Linked DNA regions of Homo sapiens. The protein of the gene in region 1 binds, or shares a complex with, the protein of each later gene. Each region holds a gene or a part of one and is shown on either strand. Other genes may lie near its edges. The genes, in order: SAV1 and STK3. A codon is read from its position in the direction of its gene.

What was found.
Region 2: the proteins of SAV1 (region 1) and STK3 are in contact, whole or in part, in a crystal structure (PDB 6AO5), measured with the Homo sapiens proteins. Residues at the interface, in NP_068590.1 of Homo sapiens: Tyr311, Ala312, Arg313, Ala314, Pro315, Asp319, Trp324, Glu325, Phe327, Gln328, Leu329, Leu332, Asp333, Gln336, Leu339, Lys340, Leu342, Phe343, Glu346, Leu347, Ile350, Val351, Met353, Tyr354, Ala356, Tyr357, Arg358, Ala360, Leu361, Leu362; in NP_006272.2 of Homo sapiens: Trp429, Lys430, Val431, Pro432, Gln433, Gly435, Phe437, Phe439, Leu440 (codon at 2,928), Lys441 (codon at 2,931), Asn442 (codon at 2,934), Leu443 (codon at 2,937), Ser444 (codon at 2,940), Leu445 (codon at 2,943), Leu448 (codon at 2,952), Gln449 (codon at 2,955), Arg451 (codon at 2,961), Leu452 (codon at 2,964), Leu455 (codon at 2,973), Asp456 (codon at 2,976), Met458 (codon at 2,982), Met459 (codon at 2,985), Glu462 (codon at 2,994), Ile463 (codon at 2,997), Leu466 (codon at 3,006), Arg467 (codon at 3,009), Arg469 (codon at 3,015), Tyr470 (codon at 3,018), Ala472 (codon at 3,024), Lys473 (codon at 3,027).

What each region holds. Positions count from the first base shown.
Region 1 is NC_000014.9:50,644,098-50,651,394, reverse strand, and holds part of SAV1 (protein salvador homolog 1), read left to right. Parts: intron 1-2,005; coding exon of another isoform or gene 2,006-2,088; intron 2,089-6,380; coding exon 6,381-6,651; intron 6,652-7,297. UniProt on the Homo sapiens protein: Regulator of STK3/MST2 and STK4/MST1 in the Hippo signaling pathway which plays a pivotal role in organ size control and tumor suppression by restricting proliferation and promoting apoptosis.
Region 2 is NC_000008.11:98,454,075-98,458,927, reverse strand, and holds the end of STK3 (serine/threonine-protein kinase 3), read left to right. Parts: intron 1-1,634; coding exon of another isoform or gene 1,635-1,637; exon of another isoform or gene 1,638-2,689; coding exon of another isoform or gene 2,690-2,743; exon of another isoform or gene 2,744-2,927; coding exon 2,928-3,086; 3' UTR 3,087-4,295; downstream 4,296-4,853. UniProt on the Homo sapiens protein: Stress-activated, pro-apoptotic kinase which, following caspase-cleavage, enters the nucleus and induces chromatin condensation followed by internucleosomal DNA fragmentation.

The DNA.
Region 1 (7,297 bases):
CCCATTTCCTTCCTCCCCCTGTAAATACCCAATTTTATTAATTTTTGTTACATATTTCATTGCAACACTTTATGAAAATAGATACAAATTACATATATATGTAAAATATGTATTCATATTATTCTCTTTCATATGTATTGTGTTAGGTTTCTGTAGCTGTAAAACACATTACTTCCAAACTCATTGGCATAAAACAATAAACATTTATTATCTCAGTTTCTGTGGTTCAGGATTTTGGAAGCGGCTTAGCCAGGTCATTCTGACTCAGGATCTCTCATGAAGTTGGAGTTCACACACGTCAGCTGGGGCTGCAGTTATCCGAAGCTTCGCTCTGGCTGAAAGATCCATTTCTTTCTTTCTTTTTTTTTTTTTGGAGACAGAGTCTCTCTCTGTTGCTCAGGCTTGAGTGCAGTGGCGCGCTCTCGGCTCACTGCATCCTCCATCTCCCAGGTTCAAGTGTTCTCCTGCCTCAGCCTCCTGAGTAGCTGGGACTACAGGCATGTGCCGCCACGCCCAGCTAATTATTTGTAATTTTAGTAGAGATAGGGTTTTGTCGTCTTGGCCCGGCTGGTCTCAAACTTCTGACATCAGGTGGTCCATCCACCTTGGCCTCCCAAAGTGCTGGGATTACAGGTGTGAGCCACTGCGCCCGGCCAAAAGATCCGCTTCTAAGTTCACTCACAAGGCTGTTAACAGGAGGCTTCAGTTCTGGCTGAAGGCCTCAATTCCTCACTCATGGGCTTCTCATGATATGGTATCTGGTTTCCCCCAGGGTGAGTGATGAGAGAGCAAGTACACTTGACCAAGGCAGAAGCTGCACGGTCTTTTATATCCTAATCTCAGAAGTCACACACCATCCTTTCTGCCATAAACTATTGGTCACACAGACAAGGGTGTGAATCCCAGGAGGACAGGGATAATTGGGGCCCAGGTTCACCTTACTGGCTGGCTACTACATATATGTATATATGGTGGTGTACTGTCCAGACTCTTTTTTCACATAATACATCCCGAATATTATTCCAGGGCAATAAATAGAAATCATCTTCATTCATGTTTACAGCTATATAATATAGTACTCTGTTCTGTGCGTGTAATAGTGTAATCATCCAGTTTGCTATTATTGGACATTTGGTTGATTTCTAGCCTTTTGCAACTATAGATGTTGCTGCAGTGACTAGCCTTATGCATATGCATTGTATGTTGTATTTAAATAAAAACAGTTTCTTAAACCACATGCCAATAACCCGTATTTATCCATACACTTACATATCCTTCTTTAGAATCTGAGTTTGAATTGAAGCATTTACCTTAATTTTAAAGTTTCTTCTAAATTACCTTTTGTCACTGGGGTCTGTTTCATTTGCCTTTCTTTAAAGGTAAACTTGATGTTTTCATTTTGCCTTAGTTTCCAGCCAACTGTAATTTTAAAAGCTCTTCAAAGTCAGCTGGGAACTTTTGACTAGTAGATGTTTTGCTCTGGCATGGTACTCCTTCACACCTCAATGGTCACCCAGTCTTTCTTATTTTGACCATTCTGAGATATTCTAAATTTGGCAGTTAGGGCCTTGGGTTGACTGGCAGTCTTCTGTTAACACACTAACTTTTCATTTAAATGCTGTATCCTTGTACCTTTCAGGCACAGGGATTCAAATTTATGTTAAAATTTTGTCTGGGGTGCAACTGTTACAAATAATGAGGATTAATAATAGTATGAACCACATACTGTCTTCCTAGGACTGTGTTAGAACATGCACCAGCAATGATAATACATCTGTATTTGCTGCCTAGTGGCTAACAGATTTACTCTCTTGATTATAAAAAACACCTTCGTTTCAGAACTAGTAAAATATGGGAGTGAAAGAGGCAAAATAAGTCCAAAAATCAAGGAAAATATTTATGCAGTTTCTGTCTCATTGATGTGTGTATCTCCTCCACTAATACTACACTGTCTTTATTACTGCAGCTTATTTATTTAACACTTACTATGTGCTTTATTCTGTAGACACTGTTCTAGAGACTGGAGATGTATCTGTGAACAAAACAAAGATTCCTGTCCTAAGAATCTTCTTTGTGGGATTCTTGTAGGTAAATAAACAAACTAAAATTACATAAGTTAAAAGGTTAAAGTGCTTTTTAAAAAAGTAAAACGGTAAGTAGAAGCTCAGCAGATGTAGACTGCCATAGTAAGAATAAGCTTCATTGAAACATTTGAGAAGAGGCTTGAAGAGGGTGAGAGTGAGCCAAGAGAATATCTGAAGGAAGAATCTTCTAGGGAGAATAAACAGCCAGTACCTGCCGTGTTTGAGAACAGCATCCAGGAGGTGAGTGTAGCTGGAACAGAGTGAGCTAAGGGTAAAAAAAATAGCAGCTTAAGTCAGAGAAGAAATGGAGGTCTGATCATCAGTAGGGCTTCATATTGAAAGTTATACAAGAGATAACTTTCATCAAGTAATGAGACAGTAAAGATAACTTGTACCAAATATCAAGGAAAAAACTTACTGAGCTCAGCCAGTATCACCAACCTGTGGTGAACCAAATAAATACTTCTTGTTTTAAGCCACTGAGTTTCGGGGTGATTTGTTATACATATGCTATTAGTATTCTTTTTTTTTTTGAGACGGAGTCTTGCTCCGTCGCCCAGGCTGGAGTGCAGTGGCGCAATCTCGGCTCACTGCAACCTCCGCCTCCCGGGTTCACGCCATTCTCCTGTCTCAGCCTCCCAAGTAGCTGGGACTACAGGCGCCCGCCACCACGCCCAGCTAATTTTTGTATTTTTAGTAGAGATGGGGTTTCACCGTGTTAGCCAGGATGGTCTCGATCTCCTGACCTCATGATCTGCCCGCCTCGGCCTCCCAAAGTGCTGGGATTACAGGCATGAGCCACCGCACCCGGCCAACTATTAGTATTCTTGTGTGAGAATAAAATTATGCAGCCAGATTATTCTTTTAAAAAGTATAGTAAATTTAACTTTTTTCAAGTTACACAGTTCTGAGTATTAACATATGTATAGATTTCATGTAATGCCTGTGTAATGAGAATACAGAACATTTCAAACACCCTCTAAAATTCCCTTAGGTTGTCCTCTTATAGTCAACTCCTGTCCCTCACCTCCAGTTCCTAGCAATCACTGTTTTCTGTCCTAGTAGTTTTGTGTTTGGAAGAATCTCATAAAAATGGAACTGTACAATTTGTAGCCACTTGAGACTGGCTGCTTTCCCTCAGCATGATACTTCTGAGATTCATCTTTGAGATTCTTGCATGTACCAATAATTAGTTCCATTTTATTCCTGAGTAGATTTCACTGTACAGTTGCACCACAGTTTGTTTATCCATTCTGTTAAAGGACATGTGTGTCATTTCCACTTTGGGGCAAATATGAATACAGTCATTGTAAATATCCACAAATGGGATTTTGTGTGAAGATGACTTCTCATTTCTCTAGGGTAAATATTTGGGAATGGGATTGCTGTAGCATATGAAAAGCATATGTTTAACTTTATAAGAAATTGCTAAGCTGTTCTCCAGAGTGACTGTAGCATTTTGCATCCACACCAGCAGTGTATGGGCATTCCAATTGTTCTGTATCCATGTAAGCACTTGCATTGTCAGGTTTTGTTTGGTTTTTTGGCCATTTTCATAGACGTGTATTGTCATTTCATTATGGTTTTAATTTGCATTTCTCTCACGGCTAATTATGATCCTGAGCATTTTTTCACGTGCTATTTACCATCAATATGTTGTCTTCGGTGAAGTGCCTGTTAAAAATTCTTACCCCCCTTTTTTTTAACTGGGTCGTTTTGTTTTCTTCTTCTGTTTTTGTTTTGAGAGAAGGGGTTTCACTCTGTTGCACAGACCGGAGTGCCGTAGCTGTTCACAGGCATGATGATAGTGTGCTACAGACCTGAAATCTTGGGCTCAAGTAACCCTCCTACTCAGCTTCCTGAGTAGGTTGAACTACAGGTGCGTGTCACTGCAGCAGGCTCAGGGTTGTTTTCTTAATGTTGAGTTTTGAGAATTCTTTGTATATTCTAGGTCAGAGTTCTTTGGCTAATAATGTGATTTGCAAACATTTTCTCCCTGTTTACAGCTTGATTTTCTTTCTCTTAGTGTCCTTCACAAGCGTTTTTAATCTTGACAGAGTTCAATTTAATCAGTATTTTTTCTTTATGAGTTGAACTTTCAGCATCATGGTAAAAAAAAGTACTCTTTGTCTAAACTAAACTCATGAAAATTTATTCTATTTTTTTCTTGTAAAAGCGTTATAGTTTTAAATTTAGATATATGATCTATTTTTAGTTAATTTGTATGTAAGGTGGCAGGTATAGGTTGTGATTAGGTTTTTTGCATATGGATGTCCAGTTGTTGCAACATCATTTGTTGGAAAAACCTTTCCCCGCTATTGCCCTTTCACCTTTATAAAAAAATCAGTTGACCATGTCTGTGTGGGTGTTCTTCTGGATTCTCTGTTTGGTTCCATTTATCTATTTGTCTGTTCTTCTGACAATACCATACTGTCTTGATTAATGTAGCTTTATAGTAAGCCTTAAAAATCAGGTAGTGTGAGTCCTTCAACTTTATCCCTTTTTCAAAAAAATTGTTTTGGCTACTCTAGTTCTCTTTTGCCTTTCAGTATACATTTTAAAATCTGTTTAATAACTATCTGTATCTACAAAAACTCCATGGAATTTTTTTTTTTTTTTTTTTTTGAGACAGAGTTTCACTCTCGTCGCCCAGGATGGAGTGTAATGGCGCGTTCTCAGCTCACTGCAACCTCTGCTCTCGGGTTCAAGCAATTCTCCTGCCTCAGCCTCCCGAGTAGCTGGGATTACAGGCGTCCGCCACCACGCCCGGCTAATTTTTGTGTTTTTAATAGAGACGGGGTTTCACCATGTTGGTCAGGCTGGTCTCAAACTCCGGACCTCAGGTGATCCGCTCACCTTGGCCTCCCAAAGTGCTCGGATTACAGGCGTGAGCCACTGCGCTCGGCCGGAATTTTTATTGGAATGACAGTAGTCTCGCTTTATCCATGGTTTTGCTTTCCACAGTTTCAGTTACCTCTGCAACTGCAGTCTGAAAATTGATGAATATGGTACAAGATCTTTCAAGAGAGAGGGAGAGAGATTACATTCACCCAGTTTTTATTATAATAATTGTTCAATTTTATTTTTGTTAATCCCTTACTGTGCCTAATTTATAAGTTAAACTTCATCATAGATACGTATGTATAGGAAAATACACAGCATACACAGGGTTAGGTACTATCTGCAGTTTCAGGCATCTACGGGAGGTCTTGGAATGGATCCCCCATGGATAAGGGGGGGACTCCTATAAAGATAAAGATAATTTCAGGAGAATTGACATCTTAACTTTATGTCGAATCTTCCAATCCGTTAATGTGATAGGTTTTTTATTTCTTTCATCAGTGTTTTGTAGTTTTTAGCATATTGGTCCTGCACAATTCTTTGGAGCTATTATAAATTATATTATCTCAATAACTTTTGTTTCCAGTTGTTGTTTGTTAATATATAAATATTAATTTTTGTATGGTGACCTTAACCCTGCTACCTTAAGCTTACTTAATAATTCTAGGGCACAGCCAGATTACTTTTAAGAATTTATAACCGGGAATGGTTTTACAAGTTCATTTTTACATTTTTTTTAAAGCTGAAATGTCAAATCTTTAATCAGGGGAAATTTTCTTTTTCCCACTTTTCTTTTGGCAGTATACATACTTAAGTAGCTTTACTGCCACAGGTTGATTATCCCTTACCCCAAAATGCTTAGGACCAGAAGTGTTTGAGATTTTGGATTTTTTTTTTTATTTTGGAATATTTGTATGTACATAATAAGATATCTTGGGAAGAGATCCCAAATCTGAACATGAAATTCATTTATATTTCATATATACCTTCTACACATAGCCTGAAGGTAATTTTACATAATATTTTAAATAATTTTGTGCATAAAACAAAGTTTTGACTGAATTTTGACTATGACTCATCACATAAGGTCAGGTGTGGAATTTTCTGCTTGTGGCAACATGTCAGCTCTCGAAGTTTTGGATTTTGGAGCATTTCAAATTTCAGATTTTTGGATTAGGGATGCTCAACCTGTTGTTAAGTGTTTGTATGGCCTGTTGATGGAAGCATCAGCCAAAAAACCCTCTACTAATTTCAAAGTCTAGTTCCTCCCCCTTTTTATAATTCCTTAATAGTAATACCGACTAGTTTTATGAAAACCATCATAATGGGCATAATCATGAATTTAAATAGAAGAGTACAATCAGGATAGTTAATGTTGTGACTTTGCTAGCTGGCACATTTTTTGCATTGAATAATTGTTCTGTTTCTTCTCTATCATTTTCTCTTTCCCCGTAGGTATTGGGAGAGTTGCTGCTACATCTTTAGGAAATTTGACTAACCATGGTTCTGAAGATTTACCCCTTCCTCCTGGCTGGTCTGTGGACTGGACAATGAGAGGGAGAAAATATTATATAGATCATAACACAAATACAACTCACTGGAGCCATCCTCTTGAGCGAGAAGGACTTCCTCCTGGATGGGAACGAGTTGAGTCATCCGAATTTGGAACCTATTATGTAGATCACACAAATAAGAAGGCCCAATACAGGCATCCCTGTGCTCCTAGGTACAGTATCAACTTTATTTTCAACTTTTTGTTTCGGGATTGTCTAATGTTAGGTTTTGAACTGATATTTTCATCTAAGAGAATAGCATCCTAAAGCTTGAGATTTGAAAGCCTTATATTTCAAAATTTACATTTTTCTCTGGACATACATTTAGTAATAAATGACTTTAATAAGTTAAAAAAATACTTTTCTCTTTAAAAAAACCTCAAAAACAAGATCATTGTTCTTATGATCAGATTCTGCTGTAGTAATGCCAGAATGTTTTTGTTATAGGTGTCCAGAAAATTAAATAATTAAAGCTTCTGCCTTCTTACACTTAAATTTTTACAAATAATAACAGACCTACCCCCTAAGTCAGAATGTACAATTGAATTATAACATTTTGCTGTTTATTCTATTTCAGACATGATTGTATGTTCTGTTTCTTGCTATTACTAGACAAGAAAGTGAAAATTGGGACTGAACAAAACATCCCATTTCTGTTTAATAAATATAGCCAGTAATTCTTTGTGCTGTTTTGATTGATACTGGGCTGGGTAGATCTGCTTTGTTGCCAGACTTTTAGCCCTGTGCTGCCTGATAGCCAGTTGTCACGTGTGGCTGTTGAGCCCTTGAATGTGATTAATATAAATTGAGATGTGCTGT
Region 2 (4,853 bases), on another chromosome or scaffold:
CACTACTATAAAGAAATACCCAAGACTGGGTAATTTACAAAGGAAAGAGGTGTATTGATTCACAGTTCCATGTGACTGGGGAGGCCTCAGGAAATTTACAATCATGGTGGAAGGTGAAGGTGAAGCAAGCCTGGACCTTCTCACGTGGTGAGAGGGGAGAGCAGAGTGAGATTGAAGAAGGAAGGGCCCCTTATAAAACCATCAGATATTGTGAGAACTCACTCACTATCACTAGAACAGCATGGAGGGAAACTGCCCCCATGATCCAATCACCTCCCACCAGGTGTCTCCCTAGACACATGGGGATTATGAGGATTACAATTCATGATGAGATTTGGGTGGGGACACAGCCAAACCATATCAGTAAAGTCTTAGGTTACAAAATCAGTGGTACAAATCAGTAGCACTATTATATACCAACAGTGACCAAGCTGAGAATCAAATCAAGAACTCAACCCCTTTTACAATAGCTGTAAAATAATTAATAATAATAATAGTAATAGCAATAAATTACCTAGGAATATACTTAGCCAAGAAGGTAAAAGATCCCTACAGGGAGAACTACAAAACACTGTTGAAAGAAATCATGCATGACACAAATGGAAATACATCCCATGCTCATGGATTGGAAGAATCAATATTATGAAAAAGACCTTACTGCCCAAAGCAGTCTACAGATTCAGTGCATTTCCTATCAAAATACCAACATCATTTTTCACAAAATTAGAAAAAAATCCTAAAAGTCACATAGAACCAAAAAAGAGCATATGTAAATACATGTGTGTGTGCACATGTGTGTGTGTGTGTGTGTGTATATGTGTGTGTATGTGATATTGAGACAAAGTTTTATCACTTAAAGAACTAAGATTTAGGTACTTCATTAATTTACTTACATGAACACCTAATTCCTTAATAATGTTAGATAATGTTTCTCTAATATCACAGACCTGTTTTTCACAAATTTTACGCATTGATAATATAAAAATCTGTTAAAGGAAGAAAATTTTTCTTCTAAGTAGCTTCTTTTTCTGAGTTCAGTCTATTACTGCAATACAATATTTATAAACCTATTGGCAGTTTGCCCCAGTAAAAGTAGTACAAGATATTTACAGGAATATCTTAATTCAGAATTAAAGTAATGATAATTGTTTGCTTTATATAATATGTTAGTTCTTCTGATCTTAGAGTAACCCACTCCTTTGGGTCATATATTCTTATTCATATTTATCTATCTACGTTTACGTCATGTTATTTGCAGTATAGTAGGATAGTTTCTTGGTGTATGTACAGTCTCTAAAGTCTAAGTATTTTTTGGAATATCTAGGGACATGAAACTCATGCATAAAAATCAATTATAAAATAGTACATGATTTAGAATCAAATACTAAATTGTGTTGTTTAAATTATGAGTGTTACATAGAAATTTAGAAATGGGAAAGATTAACATGGGCTGAAATAGAGATGATGTTGAAGAACACAGAAGTGGAACTGGATCCTACATAGACATAGTTGGGCATGTCTTTCTTGGGAAATGTGGTTGTGTGGTATACATTGGCCTTTCAATGTGGCCATTACCGATGTGTACAGTTCAAAGTTTGGAGTTTCCCTGTTTGTCTTATTCTGTATCTCCACAGTGATTTGAACAGCACTGAGCATGTAACAGATGCAAGATCACTACTTGGATTAAAAATCAATGAAGAAAGTGTATAATACTACATATGATATATAAATGTATGTTTTATGGCATAATATTAAAAGCTAGGTTCTTTCATGACATATGACTACAAAATAACAGGGCTGATTATTAATATACATACCAGAACTTCTTATGCACCGAAGTGAGTGGCATTCACCTTCAAAGTCATCATCATGGAAGCCTGCATACTCTTCTCCATAACACTGTCATTTCTCAAAATATTTTTGGAACTCCTTTTTTGAATTTCCTTCAGAGAGTCTATGACTCATTCTTTTCAGTATCCTCAGAGTCTTTTTCAGCTAAGAGTGAATTTGGTTTTTGGAAGCAGAAGTCACGATAGGGCCAGGGATGGCGAGTAAAAGGATCTGCTGAGAAATGCTACTTTGGATGACTATAAGTAATGAGTATTTTTCCTAGCTTGACTCATAAAATAACCAAAGGCAATTATCTTCTTAAAACAAAAAGTAAGTTGCAAGTTTTATCATTTTAAAACCAAGCCTGAGCTGGGTGCAGTGGCACATCCCAGCTACTGAGGAGGTCAAGGCAGGAGGATCTCTTGAGCCCAGAAGTTTGAGACCTTGTGTCAAAAAAAATAAGAAGAAGAAGAAGAAGAAAAGAAAACCAAATCTGGATTACTCTTACATAACTGTCCTACTCCAGAATTGATCATGGCTTCCTGCTTTTGGGGCCCCACCAGGCCTATTCAGCCTTACTTCCCGCCCCCTACCACAGTCATCTTCTTTATTAAGCATTTAGTAAAATGGAGGATAGAATGGTTAATTTAACCTTTATTCAGTCTTGTCACATTCTTGAGTGATCTCTGCAAGTGTTCATGATTATTGTAGCACTCAGTAGCTGGCAAAGATGTAAAAAGTTAGAGTGAATATACCTGGAACATATTCTGAAAATCTGTTTGTTGGCAGTGGTGGATTTGTCTTTGTACCTTTTTACAAATTCCATCAGCGTATTTTTCTCATTTGCCCTTTATTAAAGGCAGAGGATCGGATTGCTTCATTGCAGATTACTGGAGGTTCTTGCAAGATATGACCTCTGAGTTCTTCAAGGAAGAAATTCCTGTTTTAATTGTTGAACTATACTTCAAAGATGATGTAAAGAATTTGCTGAAATATTTATGTTAAAACTCATTAGACATTAAAGTCTAATTTCATTGTATTGATTGTGGATAATGTGGATAATTTCATTGTATTGGTATCTTTCTTTCTGTATCTAGTTGAAAAATCTAAGTTTAGAAGAACTACAGATGCGGTTAAAAGCACTGGACCCCATGATGGAACGGGAGATAGAAGAACTTCGTCAGAGATACACTGCGAAAAGACAGCCCATTCTGGATGCGATGGATGCAAAGAAAAGAAGGCAGCAAAACTTTTGAGTCTAATTTCCTCTCTGTTTTTAACTATTCTGGAGACCAAGAAACCACTAGGAATTGAAGGAATATTTGGATATTTTTAATCCTAAGATTTTGCCCTACAATTAGGCAGAGGTCAAAAAGTGACAATGGTACATGCCCAGGTAAATTCCCAAAAGGCAGAATTGACAGTTGTATCTGCTGTGCATTCACTCTAAGATGAGGAGAACAAAAGAAGTGTATTCTCTTGTTCTGTCAGCTGCATACCAGTAATAAAACTGTTATGAAATGGATTTTCAAGGTCTCTAAACCTTGAAAATCCAAAGCTATTGTTGCATTGTACAGCACTGAAGGGCTTTATGTTACAATATTCTTTATTCCTATCTAGTATACTAGGCTATTTATTGTATCCCCTTAGGTAAACTTATTTATTTATGCTATTTTGCTTTGTTTCATTTTTTAAGGACAAGATCAGGATAGCTTTGGTGAAGGTAGGGTCATATTAATATGATGATAATGTGCAACCAATTTATACTTTCTGCAGGGAGCTATGGGGTACATTCCTTGATTTCCAGGATAGTTTTTCAAATAGGAAAGCAATAATGGCAGTAGTTCTCAAATGGGCTAGGCCTTTTTTATATTGAAGCAATAATTCCATTTTTACCCTTTGAAATTTTGTTTTTTTGATTTTTGATGTTTGGTACAAATAGAACTATATATATTTAGGTAAAATAGATCTATCGTGTTTAAAACCAAAGAAATCAATGGAACCCTTGCACAAAAAAGTGTGATAAATATTTTTAAATAAAAACTTAATACAAATGTAATTTGTTAATATTGTTTCATGTTTTATGTGTAGATCTAATAGCTGAACTGATTCAAACTGTAATAAGCTCATCAATTTCATTTCTATGAAAATGTGCTCTGTTGTCACAGGATGTTTCTGTTGATTTTATTCATTTCCTGGGAATTGGTAAACATCATGTTCCTGATGATAACCCAGTAGCAAAAACATTTGTACTGAGTGGTACAAGCCTTGGGGACTGAAAAAAAAAAGATTAAAACCATTAAAAAGAAACTCATTTTTACGCTGAATGAACATTTATATGATTGCATTGGGACCAGTCATTTCCTAAGCTACATATGGCCATCTTGACAGTGTTTTTTCTTTTGTGTGTTTAATTATTATGTGTAAATCATAAAGACAAATAAATTTCACTGTGCCACCCAGCATATTTCGTTTCTGTATCTTTGTTAAAACTCATGACCTGGACTCTGCATTTTCCAAGCAAGGGACGTATATTAGTTAGGACAGGCTAGATTATGCAGTGCTGACAACCCTCACCCTTCAGCGGCTTCACATAATACAGGTTATTCCTCACTCTTGCTCCAGGCCCACCCCAGTTTGGCAGGGCGCCCTGCTCCTATCATCCACACCCAGGGACCTGCTGACAGGGCCTCAACCATCTGAGATATCTGTGGTCACCACAATAAGGAGAAGGGGAGCTGGAGAGTTTCATACTAGCTCCAGCCAGTAGTGATACATGTCTGGTTGGCCACAACCCAGTATTCAGAATTAGTCACATGGACACTCCTAACTTCGAGGGAGTCAGGAAGAGTAGCATCACCACGTAGCTGGAGGGGAGAGAACAGGAAAAGCTGATGAGTTCACTAATGTCTGTCACAGAAGGTATATTGTCTCTGGAAAGCTTCCATTCCTTTTTAAAAATGGTATTTGTACCCTAGGTAATGCCTCAAAGTGTCATTTGTCTCTACCCTGTTGAGCCCTTA